2 separate regions of the Homo sapiens genome follow, and region 1 is linked to region 2. The links come from fine-mapping of genetic effects on gene expression. Tissue or cell type: testis. Region 2 holds a variant in brackets; the other region holds the start of a gene. All regions are shown on one strand. Distances are from middle to middle.

Region 1 (2,913 bases), 24 kb after region 2:
GGGGGTGAAAACTTAGAGGACAGATTTTTTTTTTTTTTTGACATTCTGTTTTCTACAGATCTACTAGTTTCTTTTTCCTTGGTTTCAAGTAGCTACAGGAATTTTACTTCTCTCATCTTTAAGCCCAAACACCTTATTTTTGATCTCTAACACTTCCTTTTTTTCATGTTATCATTATTTTGGATGTGATATGTTAAGTGTGGGAAGGACAGAGAGAAGAAAGGAAAAATTGGGGAGGGTTAAAAAAGAAAAATTAACTTAAGTTTGCTATCTGATTTTCACATTGTAGTGATACCAGACGATCAGGCTGTGTAACAATTATTTCCTGGGGATCCACGAGGCAATGATGAGAACACTTCTTTTTCCCTCAGTTGTAAAGAGATTCTTAAATATTTATCTTGGGGTGGTTCTTTTCCATGTAATTCACTAGTGTTAAGAAGAACATAATCCCTGTTCTCCCTTTACTCCTAGCCTAGTGTCTTCTATAAATGGTAAAGGTTGTTAAACAAACAACATAACTAAAAGTAGAGGAATTTGAGAAATGGTTACTGGTTAGTGTTTTTGCCAACCTCAACTGAAAATGACGACAGTTATAAAATGATGTCTTGGTGATAAGTCTAGAGCTTCAGTGAATAAAATGGTTCGTGTAGGGAGAACTGGCTTATTCTGCTTTACAGTGGTTTCAAAGAGCTTGCTCTGTTTTGTCTATTCAAGTCAGAGGAAAACCAAAATTAAACTGGTTTCTTATGAAGTCCTTTAGCGTCTCCGTTTCAAACGCACAAGCAGGTGTTACATGCACAGTAAATCCTGTTGAGCCTTAAAAGGGGTTTTATTATTATTTTTCCATGAATGTTTTTAACCCAACAAACATACACACACACCATATGTCTGATCTGATATATGGATTCTAGACAACTTAGGAGACCGACGGGCCCAGATATAAGATGCACATTCACAGCATTCAACAGACTGAAGCCTCCAAAGAAAACTTGGACCCAAAAGAAAAAGATCTCCCACCCGCGATGTATGGCTCATGGCTTGAGCATCAGACGTTGCTGCGAGCCGCCTGCAGCCAGGGGCACAGACGGATGCGCAGCATCCCCAGTCCTCGGCGGACAGCCGGGTAGCCCAACTTACCCAGGGGTTTGATTGTGTTCTCCGTCGCCTCCTTCTCCTTAGAGCCGCCGCTCGACATGAGCGCGGCAATGGAGAAGGCGTTGGCCCGAGAGGAGAGTTGGGGCTTGGGGGACGCCGTGAACTCCATGGTCCCCAGCACGCGGTCCTGGCCAGGGACGGGGTCGTCCGAACTGCCGTCCAGATTCCCCAAGGGAGACAAAGACCCGAAACACAGCTCAAAGTTTCCGAGAGCAGTCACAGCGGGGCCAGGGACTCCAGAAGTGTCAGCTCCAACGACTCCAGAGCTGCACACTGGCCTCTATTCCCCACCGCAAAGCCCCAGAGCCGCAGAGACTTCGAAGGCAGCCGGAGAGGAGAGGGCCCACCGAGCACTACGGCGGGTGCGCACGCCCCGGGGCGCTCGGCAGGACGACAGTCTGCACAGCCCGAAGGCGGAAACGAGCATCAACTGCACAAAGTCCTGGGGTCCTGGAGCATCCCCTCCGCGTCCTTCCTCCCTCTGGGGCTGGGGACAGCCGGGATGTCCCAGGCTGAGGTGGCCACCAGCCGAGCGCGGCTGCTAGGACGCTGGCGTGGGGAGCGCGGCGCGGAACTACGGACAGTGAGCCCTGGCGCTCGCTGCCCTGCGCCTTAATTTGCTGGCGGCGGCGATCCCGGAGGCCCGCAGCCAGTCAGCGCCGTCTCACGTCACCGCTTCCTGATTCCGCCGCCGGGGGCGGGGCCGCGGGCCGGGCGCGGAGGGCGCGCCCAGGGTGCGGCGCCCGCGTGGCCTGTCGCCCCGGCTGTTCGGTACCCCAGCACAGGTTCAGGGAAAAGGGTGCCACCACTAGGCTGACGCAGCAGCCATGGACATCCCCACCTGGTCTCACAGCCCCGGGCGGGAGGGCGGTGCGCGCTGTCGGGAGAGGACACATCACCGCGGCCTAACGCCCGAGATCCGGGCATGGCCCAGTTGGGGAAGCTATGACCAGACCAGTGGAAGCCTCGGGAGTTCTCGCTTTTTCCATTCTTTTTCTTACCTGCGCTCAAAGTTCCAAAAGAAAGTAGGGAAGCGCTCAGTAGAATCCGGCGCCTCTGAGCCGGCGCCAACTGGCCAGGTCCATACTCGGGGCAGATCCCAGGGCTGGGACTCTCATTCGATGGTCCCAAATTTGATCTCTTTGACAGTGGGGCTGAGCAAATGCAGCCCTGAAAAAGATAAGCTTAGCGAGAGCTGCGGGCATTTGGCAAAGGATGCTGCTCTCAGAACCGTGGCTTCTGCTCCTCACCAGTGCGTCTCTAGCCTGGGGCTCCTATTTTCCCTAGAGGGACCCTGGAAAATGGGACGGCTGCCGAAGAGAAGGCGAAGGTCAGGGCGCGGAGCTCTACGGTAACCACGCGACGCGTAGTGGGAGAGTGCGAACCTTATGGTAGCGCCCGGACTAAGCGGACACAGACCCCTCTGGTTTTACAAAGGCGGCTGTGACGAGGACTTCCCACGGCCTTGTTGGAGGGCGTCCTGTTAGCCCTGCTCAGCCTGAATAACTCAAATTCTCCGAATTCGCAGGGTAATCCGCTTCGCTTGGAGCCGTGTAAACTCAGGCTGACATACACACTCAAGCTGTATATGTAAATATTTGTTCTCTTTTCCAGCCAGTCGGTCTGGCTATTAGAAGCCTCTTCGTGGGTCTTAAAATTAAAATAATAATAATAATTTTTAAAACTCCAACTTTTCACTGCACCACCCCCTACTCCTGAAATAAATTTGTGAGGGAAAACGGCAAGTTAAAATAGCTG
Region 2 (2,913 bases):
GGTTGACCAGATAAACTTTAAAGGAAGTAAATGTTCATACGTGCATAAGAAAGTATCTGAAAGAATATATAATGGGGTTTTGCCAGAGGTCATCTCTAAGGAAATGGGGTTTAACTGCTTTTTTATGCTTTTTCTTACTTGTCCGTATTTTCTGATTTTTTGGCAATGCACACAAACTCTTTTAGTAAAAAGAAAAAAAATTAATAAAAGAAACTTAATTTTGAATAAAACATAGATAACTCCTCCCAGTTATTTTTCTTTTCTCAGAAGGAACACTGTGCCTTTGTGTACTGGACAAAGTGAACCGCATGCCCCCAGAAAAGAAACATAAAATGCCAACTGAATGACTGTCTAAAGCTTGTTATTATACGGAACCAGCCAATAATTGTTTCCCCAATCTGAGAAACTAGACATTAGATTATACAAAGATATCCCTTTGGGCTTTTGGTTTGCTTCTCGGTTGACCACAGTAGGTATATTACAAAGCAGTAATGAAAACACTTTCTATTTTTGCCAGTGAGGTGGGTTTTCTTTTAGAAATGAGGAAGACGATGTCCCTGAAGAGTAAGGCTACACACAAAGTGAGACATTCAAGTACCTCAATGGGAGCTAGTAAAATTAGAGCAAGAAAACTAAAACACCTTTAAGAGTATCTCAAAAGCTCGTGTAGCTGTAGAAGGATTAAAACTGTGAATTTAGAGGTACAGGCAAACAGATCCAATCCCAAAGGCATTTTTGTTTGGGTGTCCCACACATTAAGCTGTAAATCTGAAACAGGAAACTTGAAATCATTAAGGTCACATATTTATAACATCATATTCAATTAGGTTAGAAAAGTGCAATATCTGTCATCATGTCATAAAAATATGTGTTTTTCTCTCAGATCTCTTATAAAGAAAAGCTCCCTATATTGTTAAGGATAGGGCTGTTTTCAATCAGTTACAAGGAGCAATTCAATTACTAGATGGTTTAGTGCAGTAACTGACTCCAGACTAATTTAATTTCTTTAGGTCTCTAAAGATCAATTGATCTGATTTGTCCCATCCCCAAAGGCTGTTTATGAAAAATTCAGACTTAAATATCTGGAAATGAAATCCAAAACCTCGGCCAATTTCACACTACTTAGGTCATCTTGCAAACTTTCAGCTAGTCATGTAAGAGTGCTGTCTTTGCCCTCAGACCATTGAAAGCTACTTAGCTTCATGTACATGTGAGTGCTCCCACATCAGGATGCTTATCCAATAAGTGGAAAATGTGGCCACATGCATTATCAAATCTGCCGTTGTAAAGAGCAGTCAGACTGAGTACCTCCTATCTTGTAAACCAATGTGCAACTACAAGGCTATTTTTACTCTAGGAGTAGTTTATTAAGACTATGAAACATAGAGTTACATGGGATAAAAGTTGTTAGATGAAATGCTCATATAACAAGATGAAGAACTTGTAATTATTTTACATTTTTAGATTTATAAAATGCTGTCATAAATGCCAGCTTATTTGATTCTCAGAATAAACCTCTGAGGTGAGCAGGGTTATTTTTTCCATTTTCTAGATGAGCGTACAGACTCAGAAGTCTGGTGACTTCTCCAGGATCACTCACCCAGGAAAAGGCAGAGGTGAGACTCTAAGCCCTAACTTTTTTTTTCTCCCAATATATCACG[T/C]GTACCCCCATGGTCTGAGACAGAAAATACGACACACACTATAAAAACGGATCACTATCACCCCACTGCATCATTGTCTCCATTCTTACTTAATACCTGAATAAAACTGAGAAAAAGTTCACTTATAACAATCCCAACTACATAAACCCGGTCTGCAGCAGGGCTTCTGGCCCTCAGAAACAGGAAATAAAGTCATGCCTAAATGAAGTTGCCTTTTGCAAGTGGACTCCTTTGTGGTCCATACTGCTGGTACCACATTCTCAGTGACTTGTATCCCACCTAATTTGAGTTACCACTTGCCTTCTCTCTGGACTTTGCAATGGATTTTCAATCACAAGCTCAAGTTTCTTTTCCTGATCTCAACACTTCCAACCAACTTGTCAAGCTCTCCAACTATTTAATCTTTCTTTTCTGCTCAAATCCCATAGTTCCTGGCCAATGTTCAGCCTCTCCTGCTTGCTCCTCTGCTTCCCCACTGAGCCTCTAAGTCTGTTCCCCTAAATCAAACCTCCCCCTCACATTCTGCCATTTGGGAAGGCTTAGGAAGGCTGAGACAGAGGTTGTTAAAATATGTAATTATCTTTTAATTTGAGTTGCCAAGATAGATTAGACAGAAGTGCTGAGGTCAGGAGATGTGGCTATATAGGTAACAAAGAGTGCAGCAGAAATGTGCAGCAGTTAGTAGGGAAATTACACAGATGTAGAGATAAGAAAATCAGTGGTTCTGGTGGCTAGGGAACTTCCCTGGTCAATTAAGACATTGGACCACATAAAAGAATTAGTGTGTTTAAGAAGTACAAATAATCAATTAGGTTTAAAAATCTTCTCTTTGAAAAACAATTTTTGACATTCATACTGGGCAAAATATGTATCTCCATATAGTCATTACTCATCACCTCAATGGTCTCAAACTGCATGAACCATTTTAATTGAGTAAAAAGTAGGGTAAGTTACAGGCACATGATTTCACTTGTCTTCTTAGAGGTCCTGAGGCCTGCCTGATGTCTCTCCTATTAAATATAAGCAGTCTACTACATTGGTAAAATTATGTGACCTTGAATTAAATTACATCTCCTTGTTTCAAAATTCCCAACTACCCTTACACTCTTTGTGTTAGCAAATATATCTACTTGGGAAGGTAAAAGGCTATCACGGTTCTGTTTCTCTATAGACTGCCACTCATTGAGACACGAAGCTTAAGAATGTCAAGAGGACTAAGTCTTTAATAACAACAAAGCCCTATTTTTTATAG

Alleles and levels. Alleles are on the strand shown, and positions count from the first base shown. SD is a standard deviation of normalised expression in the study named.
As copies of C replace T in region 2, the expression in testis of the gene that starts at base 1,744 in region 1 goes down (moderate effect, 0.43 SD a copy in GTEx).

What was found. PIP is the estimated chance that this variant, and not a neighbour inherited with it, causes the effect. A credible set is the group of variants that fine-mapping cannot tell apart.
Region 1: TBX20 starts here. The variant in region 2 is the best candidate, but not a certain one, in a credible set for the expression of TBX20 in testis (GTEx, PIP 0.88).

The regions. Positions count from the first base shown.
Region 1 is chr7:35,252,357-35,255,269 of GRCh38, forward strand. TBX20 (T-box transcription factor 20) reads right to left here and starts at 1,744. Exons shown (of 8, transcript NM_001077653.2): 1 at 1,138-1,744. The coding sequence starts at 1,264. RefSeq lists an enhancer at 665-1,241.
Region 2 is chr7:35,228,352-35,231,264 of GRCh38, forward strand. All of the region lies in intron 6 of TBX20 (T-box transcription factor 20), which reads right to left. Among named protein-coding and RNA genes, the nearest start is that of TBX20, 24 kb to the right of the region's middle. RefSeq lists an enhancer at 551-1,417. The variant T/C (reference allele first, on the strand shown) is at 1,662.